5 separate regions of the Homo sapiens genome follow, and all the other regions are reported to be linked to region 1. Evidence: microRNA targets listed by miRTarBase, many of them from high-throughput screens and not tested one by one. Region 1 holds a microRNA gene; each other region holds the end of a gene's coding sequence.

Region 1 (4,588 bases):
TCCTGTCCTCAGGATGGAATTTTGTGTTGTGGGGGAGATTTAAGGAGAGTGGGTCAGCTGATAATTAAGAAGGTACATGAAATCTAAGACACTGACCATCAAACCCCAAAGATTCTTGCTCTAACTGGCTAGCATTGAAGGTCTAAGTGTCAGTTCTAACACAGGGGCAAGTCATTTAACCCTCCTTGAACCTGTTTCCTTTCTGCAAATGAGGTCAACACCCACCCACCTCCTGTGGTAGTTGGGAGGATTCGGGGACCTAACATATATGTAAGTTCTTTGTAAGCTACAAGGCACAGCCCCAACAGGAGTTGTCACCATGCAGTGCAGTGGAACTAGAGGAGGATGGAAGAGCCCGACCTCTGGTCCTGCACATGTCCACCCTCCTGCGGATGATCCCAACCATGGCAGAGGACAAAGAGAGAGTCAGCACTGGAACCAAGTTTGCCCTCAAGCTCTGGCTGCAACATCTGGGCAGGTAAAAGTGAAAAAGGACTGGAGAGCTCCACAGTACTGGGCTGGAATGGTCTAGTTTTTACAGGCACGGGGGAAAGCAGGAAAGGACAACCTCTCTTGGAATTCCTCCACAGAACACCCCCACCGTGTAAAAGTGCAGCTTACCTGGACCCAGGGCCAGCAAAGGAAGAATGGAACATGGACCCTCTTCCCCCAAACCAGGGGTCTGGAAAGTGAAGTGTAAAATCCCCTCCCTAGCCCATCTCCATGACACTCACAGAACATTCACAACCTTTATTATGGGTGAGAGCTTCACTACAACTTTAGAAATAAAAAGTAAAATTACAACATAGGTCCTAGGCCTTGGCGAGCCTGAAAAAGAAGATTGGGAAGGAGGGCACAGGGTCCTTCCACCTCCCTGGAAAGGTGCAGAATGAGCCAGGCCTAACTACAGGGCCATGAGCCTCTAGAAGCTTAGGGGGGAATAAGAAACACTGTGAACTTAGATATATAAATAGAGAGAGACCCAAGCAATAGGCCGGGCCTGACTCCCAGACCCCTGCAGATCATGGCTAAGGCCTTACATCCTCCTCTGTCATACTGGAGTAGGAGGCAGGGGAAGTCATCTTTGGAGTATTTTGGTTTTTCTTATTTATGTACAAAAAAGTCCACATCCACAATCCAAAATAAAGTTCTCTGTCCATCTCTGAAACTGCCTGTCTCAGTTTTTCCACCTGTCTGTTTGGCCGAAGGGAATGGAATAGACATGAAGAGACAATGGATGTGAAGAAGAAATAGAGCCATGGGTTTGGGTAATAAGAAGAGAGAGCATTTGGGGTTCAAGAGAGGTGCCCCTTCCCCAAGAGGCTCTAGACATAGTCAAGGCTGAGGGTTCAGCCCTTCTCCTAGCTCACATACCATCCCATTTGCCTCCCACTGCCTAGGTTAACATACCCAAAGGAATGTGCCACCATCTAAAGAACATTTCCAGAAACAGACCCCAGTGTCCTTAAAAAGAGGTTAAATATTAACCCTTTGGGTGCTGGCCTTGTCAGGCAGAGATGAGGCCAAAAGTAGGCATCTGTGAAGGTCTGTCTGGCCCTTGGCCAGAGCCCCCAGAGGGATCAGAGTAGCTGGGGTTGGGACTCCACAGCATACTTGCTCAGTGTTGGGGGACAGCGAAGTTTCCATAATCCAGGGAACTCAGTCCAGGGAAATGATGTCTGACCGACAGCCAGTCAAAGAGGGACCTGAGGGCAGGGGTCCTCCATGCCCCTCCCTCAAGGCCCCCCCAGGGGCCACAATGCTGCTGACACGGCCAGGAGGGGGCGCCGGAGTGGCGCTGCAGTGGGAGCTCCCCAGCGTGGGGGCCAGTGGGCCCAGAAAGTGAGAAGGGGTCCCTCGGTACTGGAAGAAGTGGCCAAGGGCATCCTGTTCATCTAGTGAGGTGATGACAGAGGGGCCATAGTGCTAGGAAGAATCAAGGGCATAGTTTAAGATCTCAATCCCGACTTCCCCACCTCCCAGTCACTCATCTCAGAAATGCCGTATGAGAGCAATCAACCCCTGTGGATCCGAAGGTATTCTCTTGAGAAGCAGGAGAGCCTCTCCCTCTTTCCCCTACTTCCCTACACCCTTCCCCTTTCCCTGCCTTGAGAGAGCTCCTCCAACTTGTTAGGTTCTTGGCTTTGTGGGCGTCTGAAATGTGTGGAATGTCCGGTTAGAGCAGGCATGGTGCTCTAAGTGCACACGGGGGTAGGGGTGAGTAGGCCAGGGCAGAAAAGTAACAGGGGATCTAGGAAGGAGGCCTAAGTAGGAATCTCAGGAACTACCAGTGGGGCTGAGGAGATAATAAGATACCTACACCCCACTGCCCTCACGGGAAAGCAGATTTACATCCCCAGAGATCATAAGAGAGGGAGGGGCCCCATCAGTGTCTAGAAAGGAAGCTTCAGAGATCTGAGACCTTCTGAAGAAAGAACCACTTACCTGACTCTCTGTCTGAAGAAATGAAAATAAATCTAAACCTGGCAGGAAAAGAAAAATCAAAATTAACCTCCTATCTGACCCCTTTACCACCAAAAGACAAAGCACTGTGGACTGTGGCCCCTTGCAGGAGAAGCAGGAGGCTTTGAGAAGGAACAGGGGTTCTGATGTAGCTCTGGGGAGGGTGTGGCAGTGCAGGGTCCATCTTATGACCCATGTCATACCTTGGATGTCGGCTCCCAGTGGGAAGGCAGGTGGGTACTCATGTAGTGGGAGACTGGACAGGAAATCCCCACCCAACGTGCCCATAGCAGGGCTCCTTAGCACCGAGGATGGCTGGTGGCCAGATGTCAGGACTCTGTGGGTAGAGAGGAGCTGAGGCAGCCAGCAAACCACAGATGCCCTCACCCAGCTCAGGTCCCCAGGTTCCCTCTCTGTCCCCTCCACATTTCTCTTGCCCCAGGCTTTGTCCAATGATCAGAAAGCAATCCTGACTTCTTCCCCTGTCCGTTTTGCTGTAGACTCAGCCTATTTTCTCATACCCTTTGCTTCCAGGTAGGGCCGGGATGGCAGCTGAGGTGACAGAACAGTGCTTCTTGGTAGGGGGCAGATCCTCCTCATCTGATGAGCTTTCTATTGTCAAGTCAATAACTTCGACCTTCTTCTTATTCTCTGATGGATCTCCCCCCTGGACTGGGCTGTACTGGAGGCCTGTGGGTATTAAGAAGACTACGTCTCAGAGAAGAGGCCATCCAAGATTTAGCTTAGCTGGGGAACAGGGGGTCACTCACCATCCAGCCCATACCCTGGCGGGGGGCAAACCTCAGATGCCTCCTTCTTGGGTTTCATTGGGCACCAGGATCCATCTTCCATGAATTGGATCTCATCACAATCTGAACAGGAACTAAGAATCTCCATAAATAAACTGGGGGAAGAGAGAGATGAAAATTCACGGGGCTGGGAGATGAGCAGAACAGTAGCCAGAGTTCTGTAACTCACCTTCCTGTATCTCAGTTTCCTCATCTGTAAAATAAGAACATTATCCATCCTACTGGACCGCTCTGAGTTGTTGGAATCAAATAACACAAGGTATGTAAAAGAGCTTTGCAAAGTAAGTAATAGGTTTTAAAATAAATACAATCTGAGGCTGGGTGCAGTGGCTCACGCCTTTAATCCCAGCACTTTGGGAGGTACAGGCAGGTGAATCACTTGAGGCTGGGAGTTCAAGACCAGCCTGGCCAACATGGTGAAACCTCATCTCTACTAAAAATACAAAAATTAGCCAGGTGTGGTGGCACATGCCTATAATCCCAGCTACTTAGGAGGCTGAGGCACGAGAATCGCTTGAACCCAGGAGGCAGAGGTTGCAGTGAGCCTAGACCACACCACTGTTCTCCACCCTGGGAAACAGAGCAAGGCTCTGCCTCAAAAAAAAAAAAAAAAAAAAAGCCGGCGTGGTGGCTCACGCCTATAATCACACTTTCAGAGACTGAGGTGGGTGGATCACCTGAGGTCAGGAGTTCGAGACCAGCCTGGCCAACATGGTGAAACCCCATCTCTACCAAAAATACAAAATTAGCCGGATGTGGCGGCACATGCCTGTAATCCCAGCTACTCAGGAGGCTGAGGCAGGAGAATTGCTTGAACCCAGGAGGCAGAGGTTGCATGAGCTGAGATCACGAGACTGTGCCATACCACTCCAGCCTGGGTGACAGAGTGAAACACCGTCTCAAAAAAAAAAAAAAAAAAAATCTGAGCACTTACGTGTAGTATAAGGAACAAAAGGAGCAGAGACACAGAAGTCCATAAACCATCTCCAAAAGGCACTGGGTCTTTGGCTTTCTAAACACTTGTGTAAAAATAAATAAATAAAGGCACTAGGGGCCAGGCATGGTAGCTCATGCCTGCAATCCTAGCACTTTGGGAGGCCAAGGTGGGAGGATCACTTGAGGCCAGGAGGTCGAGGCTGCAGTGAGCTATGATTGTGCTACTATACTCCAGTCTGGGCAACAGAACGAGACCCTGTCTCAAAAACAAACAAACAAACAAAAAGTGGGGGAGCACTGGGAACAGGAACCATAATGTAGATTCCAAAAAGAGGTTAAGACTAGCAAGATCAAAAGATTAGAACATCCAGGCCCTGAAA
Region 2 (3,000 bases), not on the chromosome of region 1:
ATTTCTATTATTTTTGGTATGATTAATAGTTTGTCACAATGTACAAATATTAGTGATTGAAACTTTCTTGTAATTCTGAATATGCTCATAACCTGTAGAGATTCTCTGGAAGGGGCTCAAGCAGTAGCTTTTCTGAAGCATTTTCCCTCTGAATATAGGAGGCCCTCAAAGTAATAATATGACTTATTTCATTTCACAGATGAACAGGCAACAATTCAGTATTCTGATCCCTGTGAATGAGGTAAGTCCAGCGGAGAAATGGGTGGAGTTATGGGTTAGGGTGGCAGAAGTTAAGAGGAGCCTCTTTTCGAGTTACTGTCATTGTCTTTTTTTGAGATAGAGTCTCGCGGTGTTGCCCAGGCTGGAGGGCAGTGGCGGAGGTTGAGTGGCTCACTTCCCAGCTTCAAGCGATTCTCCTGCCTCAGCCTCCTGAGTTGCTGGGATTATAGGCGCCCACCATGATGCCTGGCTAATTTTTGTATTTTTAGTAGAGACAGAGTTTCACCATGTTGACCAGGCTGGTCTCGAACTCCTGACTTCAGGTGATCTGCCCACCTCGGCCTCCCAAAGTGCTGAGATTACAAGCATGAGCCACCACACTCAGCCCTGTTATTGTCTTTTGGAAGCTATTGTTGATAGAAAGTGAGCTTTCCTTTTTTGTCTTAAACTTTTTTTTTTTTTTTAAACAGGATCTGGCTCTGTTGCCCAGGCTGCAGTGCAGTGGCGTGATCTCAGCTCACTGCAGCCTCTGCCTCCCAAGTTCAAGCGATTCTTGTGCCTCAGCCTCCTGAGTAGCTGGGATGACAGGCACGTGCCATCACGCCCAGCTAATTTTTTTTGTATTTTTAATAGAGATGGGGTTTCGCCATGTTGGTCAGGCTGGTCTCAAACTCCTGGCCTCAGGTGATCCGCCTACTTCAGCCTCCCAAAGTGCTGGGATTACAGGTGTAAGCCACTGTGCCCGGCCTGTCCTAAACTCTTGAAAATAGTTTACAGAAGAAAAAGCTAATGCTTGGTATTAAAACAATACTTTTTTCTATCAGATTGAAAATGGATTGATTTTTCCTGATATTTTTACATGATACATCTTTGTTATATGAAAATACTAAGACAAAAGTAAAGGTTACCTGATTCTACACCTGTGAGATAACACTATTAATAATCCAACTGTGCATTTGTGAGATTTTTTTGTATATATATAGAGAGGTCAAGTATCCTCTATGTATGTAATGAGCTTCTGAGTATCACAGTGTCTTCTATTTTTTGTTTGATTGTTCGCTTTTCAGGATAGGAGCTGGAAACTCAATTAGTCCTCTGTGACATTTACTGGAGGGTGGAACATTCTTCTGTCGCTTGAAGCAGAACTCATTCAATCAAATAATTTAATTTCTCTGACTAGTATATGGGTAACAAATGAATATGTCTGAACCTCAGCTATAATACTTTCTACTACCTTTGCAAGGAGATGGGATAGGAACAATCACTCAGAGGAGGCGTTGCATGGGCAGGGTCATAGGGGGAAGAAAGGTGGTTTAGCTGTTTTATTTAGCCATTCAGGGGGCTCTCCAGAGAGGAGACGGTGGTAGAGGGTGAACTAGAGAAGATAAGAATGTCTTCCTAGGCCGGATGCGGTGGCTCACGCCTGTAATCCCAGCACTTTGGGATTGCGAGGTGGGCGGATCACTTGAGGTCAGGAGTTCAAGACCAGCCTGGCCAACATGGTAAAACCCGTCTCTACTAACAATACAAAGATTAGCCTGGTGTGGTGGCACGGGCCTGTAATCGCAGCCCCTTGGAAGGCCAAGGCAGGAGAATCGCCTCAACACTGGAGGTGGAGGTTGCAGTGAGCTGAGATTGTGCCACTGCACTCCAGCCTGGGCAATGAGGCAAGACCCTGTCTCAAAAAATAATAAATAATAATAATAATAATGTTTTTCTAGAGTTTCAGTCTAAGGGAAAATGTGATTTAGGGCTTTGGAAATTGGCTAAAAAAATAAAAATGGAAAAGAAAATCTGTGCATTTAGTTCTATGCATATTTCTTTGGAAACCAAAAGTTCTTTTAAAGGTGATGATCATCCTTTCCCCCAAAACTCACAGTTTGGTTTCTTCCTTAAACCTTTTAACCCAGACTTCTCAAAGAATCATCTTAAAGATGTGAGGACAGGTTAGAATAGAGAATTTTAATTATGGGGCTCTGCTCAACCAGCCCGCTACTGCAGGGCAAACAGTGATGGATTACAAGAAAAGTGGCTGGCCAGAATGCCGTTTCCATCTCTCTCGGTTTCTCTTCTGCATGATTCTCCCAACCTCTCCCCACATGGGCTATCTATCACCTATCACCGTGCAAGCACTTCCTCAGAGGAATGCTTTTGTTTTGGAAACAGGTTTGGAGGCAAAGGGATAAGGGAAGTAAGATGAATGATATTTAACAGAAAAGATTCTCTAGGCAATTACACCCTTTTATCCTGGGTATCCACTGGATCCATTATGCTCCCCTTGATTGCAAATTCTGACTGAAAAGTCAGGGAAAATAAGTACATTCTACAAAAATAAAAAATGACAGATGGGACCTACTTAAACTAAAGAGCTTCTGCACAGCAAAAGAAACTATCAACAGAGTAAACAGACAGCCTAAAGAATAGGAGAAAATATTAACAAACTGCCTCCAGCAAAGAACTAATATCCAGAATCTATAAGGAACTTAAACAAATCAACAAGAAAAAAACAAATAATCCCATTAAAACGTGGGCAAGGGGCATGAGCAGACACTTCTCAAAAGAAGAGTACAAGTGGCCAATAAACATATGAAAAAATGCTAACCATCACTAATCATCAGAGAAATGCAAAATCAAAACCACAATGAGATACCATCCACACTAGTTAGAATGGCTATTATTAAAGTCAGAAAATAAGAGATGTTGGCGAGGTAGCAGAGAAAAGGGAATGCTAACACACTGTTGGTGGGAAGGTAAATTAGTTCAGCCACTGTGGAAAGCAGT
Region 3 (3,000 bases), not on the chromosome of region 1:
CTTGTTTAATTCTTATAACAACAAGCAAAGATTATCCCATATGTTAAGGTTATAGAAGCTTAATATCAGAACAGCTGGCAGCCCCATGGCACCAGGAACAGCATAGGATGCTCCACCTACGGCAGCTCCTGGATTTGGGGAGGCTTCTGGAGGCAGAGGGGTGAGTGCCCAGGTCTCGGTGTCGGCCCCTGGCACTCCTCCCTGCAGTCCAGCATGGCTGCTGCTCGCCCCGTGCCTGAGCATTCCCACATGGGTTGTAGGTACAAAGCCGAGTGTGCGGTGTGTGGTGGGTCTGTGTCACTGCCTGTGTCTGACCCTTTCTGTCTTGCAGTGGTATTGAGCACGCTGCGGCAGCTGAGCACCTCCACCTCCATCCTCACAGACCCGGCACAGCTGCCAGAGCAGGCGTCCAAGGCTGTCACCAGGATTGGCAAGAGATTGGGAGAGTCCTAGCTGCTTAGCTGGCATGTGGCCGCATGAGATGCCAGGAGACCCTTCCCTGCCCATGGAGAGTAGGCTGCGCCCCCCAGCCCTTCCTGACGCTCAGCCTCGGGGCCTCTCTCCAACTCTGCCGGCCCACCGTGGCATCGGGAGGCCATGCTCAGGTCTGAAGCAGGTTTGGGGCCTGCTGACAGCAATAGCCCGCCTTTGGGAACCCCTTGCTGTGAACTCTCTCACTCAGTGACCTCAGTCACCAACCTCCTCTGCCCTCGGGGCAGCCCACACAAAAGGGAAGTGCTGGCCGTGCTGGTCCTGCCCTGCTGGTGGCCTGCCGGGCCTGGCGCCGGTGAGCGGAATCGATGGGATGAGGGTGACAGGGCCTGCTCCTGTCCTGAGGCCCAGCCTTGTCCCTCCTGCCACGTCCTGTCCACATGCATGCCTCTGCCTGATGCCCTGCTCCACTCTCTGGTCTGCCCGTGGGGCAGTTGGAAGGCGTCTTTCTTTCTCCCCTCAACTCTGACAGCACCCAGCCCTTGTGGATGGACTTGGGCTTCTATTCAGGCTTATGCATGGCAGGCTGCCAGGGGGAAGTGCCTTCTTCAGAGGTCCTCCAGGACACATGTGTGCAGAAACGGTGGATGTGGAACACACAGGACCAGAATGGAAGCGTGTGATGCACGGTGGCTGCTCTGGCTGAGAGGCCCTGCTGGGCATGTTTCATCTGTCCCCTTTTAGCTCCACCTGACATTGCAGGATCCATGGGGACTCAGCCCAGGGCCTTCTCGGATGTCACCTCACCGCTGTGGCCCTTCTGCCGTTCTTCTCCACTTGGCTCCAGCTGCAGCTGTTGACAGATCAAGCATGTCCTGTGGGAGCTTAGAACCCTGAAGTTCTAGTGTCTGAAAGATCAGACTCCACGTCCTGCTGTCAGCCTTGTCATCTTGTCTGATGTCTTTCAGCTGGGAGCCCCAAACCAGGACAGTTCTCGGACCAAAGATGCCCCCACACTCAAAAGTCTGTCCCGTCTTGTGTTTGGAGAAGGAAACAATGTTGGCAGGCAGCACTCTGTGGTGGTCAGCCCTCAGAGCTGTTTCTAGGCATCTCTCAGATCAGACAGCAAAGAATCTACCCAGATCTGGGCTGGGTGGAGGTGTGGCTGGGCTGGGGGCCATTCTGAGCCTGCAGTGAGAGTTTGGCCCAGCCTCAGTCCTTGCTCTTCTCTGGCTACCTCTGCAGGGAGCTGCAGGGGCAAGCACTCTCTCCAGCACTCAGGAAGCCCGGCCGAGGGTACCTCCTCGTGGAAAGAATGCACTTTAAAGCTCTGCTGAGGAGTTCGGAGCCCAGGCTTTCAGGCGACCTCTGCCCTCCCTGCCTCTCCTCACCCTCCCTCTCTTCCTGCAGGGCCTGGGAAGGGCTTTGAGGGAGCCTGGGAGCCATGTGAAGAGGGGCACGCCTGGGCTGTCCCACAGTTTAGATCCAGTTGGAGGTTCTCCCTGGCTCCTGCAGGCCTGCGGGGATCTCTCCCCACTTCAGGCCTCCGGCCAGCTGCCTGCCCTCTTGTCTGTGCTTCAGCCCTGCACAAAAGCAGCTTGGTGACACCACTCAGCCACCCAGAGTACGTGTTTACAGGCTTTCCAGATCACCTTCCTGTGGGGTGAACGTAATGAGGCGGGGCTGGTCCTTGGAATTTCCCCTGGAAAATGGTAACAGACTCCATCCTTGACCCGGGGATGAGCATGAAGGCATTGTCCCAAAGGCAGAGGCCACCGTGGTAGGAATTCCACCAAGGCCAGAAGGGAAAAAGGAAGAACCCACCGTGTCTGGCTGTGCGGGCCCTGGGGAGGGTCGTGAGTGCAGCCCCTCTCTACTTCTGTGCCTTTGTAAAACGTGTAGATAACCGCAGTGGTTGGCTGAGCCAAGAACTCTCCTAAATCAGTGGCTTTCTCCCCACCCCTTGCTGGGGAGTCATTTTTAAAAAAATCTGTGGGATATAAAATTGGCCTCCTGCTGCTTCAGCCTACCTCTCCCTCTGCTGACTTAATGTCGTGATTCTGTTTCTTCAGATATTTAAGGCTGTTAGGTTGTGTGAGCCTTGAAGTGTGTGTGTGTGTCCCAGCGACTGTCCACTGTCCAGGAGATGCATGTCTTTGTATTGGAGATATTTCTGTAACTCATTCTCTTGGTGCTCACGATTGCCATGGCCATAGGGCCACAGTGCCGTATCTGCTGCAGACATGATTGTTTCTTGTTCTAGAGGTTTTCTTGTTTTCGAATCTTGCCTGATGAATCCAGCCAGACCAAGGGGCCTAGATTTGACCTCTGTCCTGGGCTCCTGGGCCAGGTGCAGGAACATCTGAGGCCACTCTGCTGGCCACCTCCAGTGGGTGCTGACCACAGGATGGGCTTTGTTTACACTCATTTTCACCCTGATTCTTGCCCCCACTTTCATAAAAGAAACTTCAAAATGCTGACGCTTTGGAGAGTAAGAAAATCAATCTTGGCTGGGCACGGTGGCTCCTGCCTGTGATCCTAGCACTTTGGGAGGCTGAAGCTGAAGGA
Region 4 (3,000 bases), not on the chromosome of region 1:
CTCTGCCCAAGGCCTCAGAGCAGGCGGAGCTGCCTCGCTGCAGGCAGGTGGGGGACCACGGGAAGCCCTGCGTCTGCCGCTATGGCCTGAGCCTGGCCTGGTACCCCTGCATGCTCAAGTACTGCCACAGCCGCGACCGGCCCACGCCCTACAAGTGTGGCATCCGCAGCTGCCAGAAGAGCTACAGCTTCGACTTCTACGTGCCCCAGAGGCAGCTGTGTCTCTGGGATGAGGATCCCTACCCAGGCTAGGGTGGGAGCAACCTGGCGGGTGGCTGCTCTGGGCCCACTGCTCTTCACCAGCCACTAGAGGGGGTGGCAACCCCCACCTGAGGCCTTATTTCCCTCCCTCCCCACTCCCCTGGCCCTAGAGCCTGGGCCCCTCTGGCCCCATCTCACATGACTGTGAAGGGGGTGTGGCATGGCAGGGGGTCTCATGAAGGCACCCCCATTCCCACCCTGTGCCTTCCTTGCGGGCAGAGAGGGAGAGAAGGGCTCCCCAGATCTACACCCCTCCCTCCTGCATCTCCCCTGGAGTGTTCACTTGCAAGCTGCCAAAACATGATGGCCTCTGGTTGTTCTGTTGAACTCCTTGAACGTTTAGACCCTAAAAGGAGTCTATACCTGGACACCCACCTCCCCAGACACAACTCCCTTCCCCATGCACACATCTGGAAGGAGCTGGCCCCTCAGTCCCTTCCTACTCCCCAACAAGGGGCTCACTATCCCCAAAGAAGGAGCTGTTGGGGACCCACGACGCAGCCCCTGTACTGGATTACAGCATATTCTCATCTCTGGCCCCGAGGCTGCCTGTGGGGCGAGTGGAGACCTCCCATCACTGAGACAGATCACAGACCACGAGTGCCTTTCCCGGACCTGGACGTTGCCTCCAGAGCAGGCACCAGCTCTTTCCCTCTCTACACAGAAATATTTTTGTAAGGTTCTGGGGCAGGGAGGGAGCATGAAGTACGAGGAAAACTTGAATTCCAGATTTTTAGTGCAAAGTATTTATCATTTCTACCAGAAATAAACGTTTTAAGTTTTTACTTGACTAATGAGACCCAGAGTTTGGAGAAAACTTTTGGCCAATGCTGCCACCTGATGTCAGAAAGTGTCCCCACACCCTAGCAGTGGCCTATCTTGGAACAAGAACTTCGAAAGCACCTACTGTGTGCTCAGCCATTTGAGGAAGGAAGGAGGAGAAGGAAGATGTTACTAGGGAAGGATGAGATAAAACTTCTGCACCCAAGACAATGAGACAGACATAGCTGCAACCGTAGTAAGCCAGTCAGAAATAGCCAGCGCGAAGGCAAGAGATGGGGTGGAGATTGGAACCCCGCTTCAGATCTGGGCTCGGCTACTTACCTGCTGTGCAGCCATGGGTCAAGTTGCTTGACCTCTCTGTGCCTCCACTCCCTTAGCTATAAAATGAGCTTACTTAAGAGACCGAAGTGAATTCTTGCATGTCAAGCATCTAGCACATAGTGCTGTTAGCCATTCTTAGTATCATTACTATTAGTGAAAAAAGCAGACATTCCTGCAGCTATAAGCCTGACTCAATGAAATCAGACATCTGGAAGGCTCTTCACTTCCAAAGTATCTTTCAACATGAAGAGGCTGTAATAGGAAGTGCCGGGCAGGGTTCTGGATGGTTCCAGAGCGAGGGATGTGCAGGCTGCATGTATTGGGAAAGGCTTTCTGGAAGAGTTGGGGTGTGGGTTGAGGCTGGAAGATGGTAACGATTTGGCAAGGTGGAGGCAGGAGTGTTTTAGGGGTTGGAAGAGTCTCATGGGTTCCCCAGGTGACCCAACTTTCTCAAGGAAGAGATGGGGACAGTCAGATCCTTCCTTGAAGGCCTTGGCGAGGGAAGGGGTTTGCAGGGTGGTCCCCTTTACTCTGCTCCCAGAACTCCCAGAACAGGCTGCAACTGCCCCTTGAACTCATGCAGGCCAGAGGGTTGAGGGAGCTGGGCTTGCTTGGCCTTGGTTGAGCTGAGGGTCAGCGGGGAGATAACCTTTTCAGGTGGGCACACCTCCCTTCTGAACCTGTTTTCAAGGACCAGCTCAGCCTTGCTGGGGGATGGGGAGGGAGCTGTCCCATCAGTCACCCCCCAGTCCTTTTTCTCCTTCCCTTTCTGCCAGGGCCTCCATCCCAAGCCCCAGCCATTGCTCCAGGTGGGCAAGGGATACTTGGAGAAGGCACCTGCTACCTCCTGTGTGCCTTTTTTGATGGAAGGGGAGTCCCCAAATCAGTATGTTTTCCCTTCTGATTTCCAAGTCACCAAAAATAATGCTTTTTTAAAAAGCAATGTTTTCAAGACTTGGAGTGTTTTTCTGACCTTCCTTGACTAGCACCTCCTAGCTTGTCTGGCCCCTGCAGTGAGGGGGCTCTGGACACCATCACTACAGACACCAGCTGCCTTGGGCTCCTTAGTCTCAGGGGATGGTGATGAGAAGAATCCCTGAGACTTTGGGCTGACCTTAACACTCTGCAAAGTAGGCACCTCCCACAGGGCCACATCCAAGGGCTCGAGTCCACCATTCCAAAGCACTCGCCCAACCGCCTTAGCCCCACTGTCACAGCACCTGAAATCCTGCCGTGACAGTCACTTCTTTGCTGAAAAGCAAATTTTAGTGTGCATCAGAATCACTTAGGAGCTTGTTGAAATAGATGTAGGTGGTCAGCTGTTTGGCAAACACTGAGATAAGACTTCCCTATCGCAGGAGGCTTTTGTGGCCGTGTAAAACACTTGGGAGTGGTAATATCAGTACTTATTTCTCTGCGGACTTTAGGGTTTACAATGTGCCTTCATATAAATTGGCCATTGGCTCCTTGTAGTGACTCTGTAACATTTTATAGATGTGGCTCCCTTATAAAATTGTGTGACCAGCCCAAGTTCAAGTCCAGGCATCTTGTTAGAACAGAACTGAGATCCAACCCCTGTCCTTCTTACTCCACACCCCCTCCCAACCCAAAGTGCTTTATGAGGTTGGCCAGCCAG
Region 5 (3,000 bases), not on the chromosome of region 1:
GGAGGTTGAGGCTGCTGTGAGCTGTGATTGCATCATCGTATTCTTAGCCTGGGTGAGGGTGAGACCTTGTCTAAAACAAGACAAAACTAAAAAGAATTTTAGAAGAGATATAGAAACAGCTGACATTGTTCTAAGAAACTACTAGCACAGTGCAAAAGAAATATGCTTTCATTCCATTTTTTTCTTCTGTATTCACTCTTTCTTTTTTGCTAGGTGGCATGCATGCAGTGGTTTCATGGAGACCATACAATGCTTGAGATGATTGAGAAAAAGCGTTGCTTGTGCAAGGAAATAAAGGCTAGACAGAAAACGGAAAAGGGCCTTTGCAAACAGGATAGCATGCCTATCTTGCCCAGCTGGAAGAAGAATGCAGGTGCCAAGAAGTACAGCCCTCCACCGTATTCTAAACAGCAAACGGTATTCTGGGATACTGCCATATGAGTGTGTGCAGGATGGTGTGAGCTCTACATTTCTTAATATGAAGAGGGAGGTCGACTCGGTCATATGATAATGAACTGTTACATATCTTTTCTGTGGGAGTGGAATGCCACGGGAAGCTGTGCCTATTCGTGGCAAGTTCAAGATAAAATGCATATGTCCTTGCAATGAAGGCACACTTATTTATCCCGGATTATTTTGAATCCAGAAGATATTAAAATGTAAATATTTTACTAGTTTATGGGTGACATCTGAAATAATACACATTATACGTATATAAATTACAGAAATATCAAGAGTTTACTATATGATATAATTTCAGTATTAACTGGTTTGTTATCTCTTTTATATGTAATCCCTTGATGCCTTTTATTATTAATTTTTGCATTTAAAATGTTTTTTTTCCCTTGCCCACATTTGGTTTCTGTACAAGAGCTCACAACTATAAATCATGTTCAATCACGTAATATATGATCTGGTGCTAGTAACGTAGAAGTTGAATATCATATTTGTTAAGAGCATCTGTGCTTTTTAAGTTTCAAGGGTTTGACAGGAAATGAATGCAAATGTGATGCTTAATTTGGACGTCCAAGTTACATTGACAACAATATTTTTGCTACATTGGCTTTATAAGAATTTCTCTTTAGCATCCTCTGGCAATGGTTAGGCTAACCATTAGTCTGACTTAGTAATAACTAAGCAATGGTTAGTCAGACTCCAGAGAAAGTTACTAGGATATATTGGACATCCCAGCAGAAAACATTTCCTTCAGAAATGACTTTAGGGACATGTGTCCTTGCATCATTGATCTGATTGGAGGAGACCAGGGTTCACTGTGACAATGGAAGGAACAAGGAATTAATAGCTCAAGAGCATGACTGCTTTCAAGAAAGTGGGACCAGTGGCATTGTAGCCACCATAATCACTATATTTAAGTAACTTTTCATGTGTATGCTTGTTTCCCCAAGAAAATGAGAAATAAACATTCAACTAGACCAGTTTACATATTTTAATACACTAAATGCCAATCTTTCTAAAAGTTTAGATCTATTAATAAAATATGTATTTCTTGTTAATTTTTTCAAACTGGTTATCACCACATTTCTGGGTCATAATCTTCTGTATGTGATCATCACACCCATTCTTACTGATTATGACACCATGACCAAAGAATTATGATCATGTTTCATTTCATTTTGTTTCAAGAAAGAGACAGGAAATGCAGGGGATGAGGGATGGGGTGGATTCAATTTTATGTAGTGGTGAAATTTAAGTTAAAAAAATCATATATATCTTTTAAGAAGAACTTGTTAGTTGAATATAAATATTGCCACGAATGAATAAAAAAGAAACTATCGCATATATTTTGTATATTTAAATTACTATTTATGCCTCCTAAAATTGATAGTATGTGGTTCTTTGTTAACAATCAATTTAGTATTATATTTCTGAGAGAAAAGATGTGTTTTTGAAGTTATTGTTATAGCAGTTTTTCTTGTAAGGGTATTGACAGCAATAGTTCAGTGCTGCTCAATAAAACCAAATATAACAGGAGTTAGAGAATCTTTGTAATCTATATTGCTACAAACCTAGTAATGCTTTATCAGTAATAGTTTCTTTCAAAAGCCTTTTCAATGTTATAACATGATTTTCTAATGTTTTATAATTAATGTGTATTTTGATGTCCAATTCAAATTCTGAAAAAATAAGGAAAAAGGTAAGTGGGAGCAGTGTATGGTTGGTGTGTCTGTGAGCGTGCGTGCATGTGTGTGTGTGTGAGTGTGTGTGTACATGAACGAATACTCAGTGGGAGAACTGTATACATAAAACGCTTACTGAAGTTGCAGGTTCTGCTTGTATAATTGAGGTGGTAGAAAACCGGGATCACAAATGCAGGAAATTAGGAAGGGATCTTAAGTAGCTTAAATAAAACCCGCCAGCATGTTTCACCAGCTATAGATTATGTTTCAAACCAAATAATCTATGAAGCACAAATCTAAGGGTGATGAAAATGTGTTTAGATAAAATCAGAATGGAAATAAAATGTGTTTATGACCCAAGTTGTTATCCTGATTTAAGTTATTATGACCACATATACTCAAGCCTATCAGTCAGACACAAGATACTAATTCTCAGCATGTCTATGATTACGTATATATTCAGGCTCAGTATGGTGATGATTAACCCTCCCTTAAAATTTATATTTAGGGAACATCTTTCTGTGGGGAGATGCAAGTGTGTTTTTCAGATGCGTATCTTTCCCATATCACTCTGATTTAGGCAGAAAGTTTATTTAATGTTGGCCATTTGTCAAGAAGGAAACAAAAGTACTAAAATGATCTGTGTTGGATTAAACCATTCCTGTTTGTTCTATCAAACTTATGCTAGGGCCAGGTTTCATGCACTCCTTTTTCAAATGCATTATTTTCTGAGGCGGTAACTTGTTTGAAAATTTGACCTTAGGCAACCATTTTCATTTATTTCCGCAAATCTCTACTTAAGTGGAAAGTGACTGAAAGATCTGGAAAAGTGGCTTCACTGAGATTTGACTCAAGAACTGTT

Evidence for each region. The annotated mature microRNA hsa-miR-6736-3p reads UCAGCUCCUCUCUACCCACAG and lies in region 1 at 2,801-2,821, opposite strand. An mRNA with a match to its seed (bases 2 to 7 or 8) in the 3' UTR can be bound and repressed. Matches are read on the target gene's strand: a 7mer-m8 pairs with bases 2 to 8, a 7mer-A1 pairs with bases 2 to 7 and ends in A, and an 8mer does both.
Region 2: the mRNA of A2ML1 is a reported target of hsa-miR-6736-3p. Seed matches in the 3' UTR shown: 7mer-m8 at 1,291-1,297 and 7mer-A1 at 1,846-1,852.
Region 3: miRTarBase lists MLXIP as a target of hsa-miR-6736-3p. Seed matches in the 3' UTR shown: 7mer-m8 at 1,678-1,684.
Region 4: the mRNA of OAF is a reported target of hsa-miR-6736-3p. Seed matches in the 3' UTR shown: 7mer-m8 at 677-683 and 7mer-m8 at 736-742.
Region 5: the mRNA of NYAP2 is a reported target of hsa-miR-6736-3p. The part of its 3' UTR that is shown has no 7-base or 8-base seed match.

The regions. Positions count from the first base shown.
Region 1 is chr1:145,847,787-145,852,374 of GRCh38, forward strand. MIR6736 (microRNA 6736) reads right to left here and starts at 2,859; the gene lies at 2,801-2,859. PIAS3 (protein inhibitor of activated STAT 3) reads right to left here. Exons shown (of 14, transcript NM_006099.3): 10 at 3,234-3,367; 11 at 2,985-3,153; 12 at 2,667-2,800; 13 at 2,446-2,483; 14 at 736-1,926. The coding sequence ends at 1,660. It overlaps NUDT17 (nudix hydrolase 17), which reads left to right. Exons shown (of 8, transcript NM_001012758.3): 7 at 326-478; 8 at 591-1,168. The coding sequence ends at 693. RefSeq lists an enhancer at 1,895-3,094.
Region 2 is chr12:8,874,772-8,877,771 of GRCh38, forward strand. A2ML1 (alpha-2-macroglobulin like 1) reads left to right here. Exons shown (of 36, transcript NM_144670.6): 35 at 200-241; 36 at 1,287-2,016. The coding sequence ends at 240. Among named protein-coding and RNA genes, the nearest start is that of PHC1, 38 kb to the right of the region's middle.
Region 3 is chr12:122,141,360-122,144,359 of GRCh38, forward strand. It overlaps MLXIP (MLX interacting protein), which reads left to right. Exons shown (of 17, transcript NM_014938.6): 17 at 332-3,000. The coding sequence ends at 453. Among named protein-coding and RNA genes, the nearest start is that of IL31, 31 kb to the right of the region's middle. RefSeq lists a silencer at 1,130-1,330.
Region 4 is chr11:120,228,892-120,231,891 of GRCh38, forward strand. It overlaps OAF (out at first homolog), which reads left to right. Exons shown (of 4, transcript NM_178507.4): 4 at 1-1,443. The coding sequence ends at 251. Among named protein-coding and RNA genes, the nearest start is that of POU2F3, 9.7 kb to the right of the region's middle.
Region 5 is chr2:225,698,104-225,701,103 of GRCh38, forward strand. NYAP2 (neuronal tyrosine-phosphorylated phosphoinositide-3-kinase adaptor 2) reads left to right here. Exons shown (of 8, transcript NM_001371273.1): 8 at 214-3,000. The coding sequence ends at 441. The region is part of intron 5 of LOC105373914 (a long non-coding RNA gene); the gene reads right to left. Among named protein-coding and RNA genes, the nearest start is that of NYAP2, 300 kb to the left of the region's middle.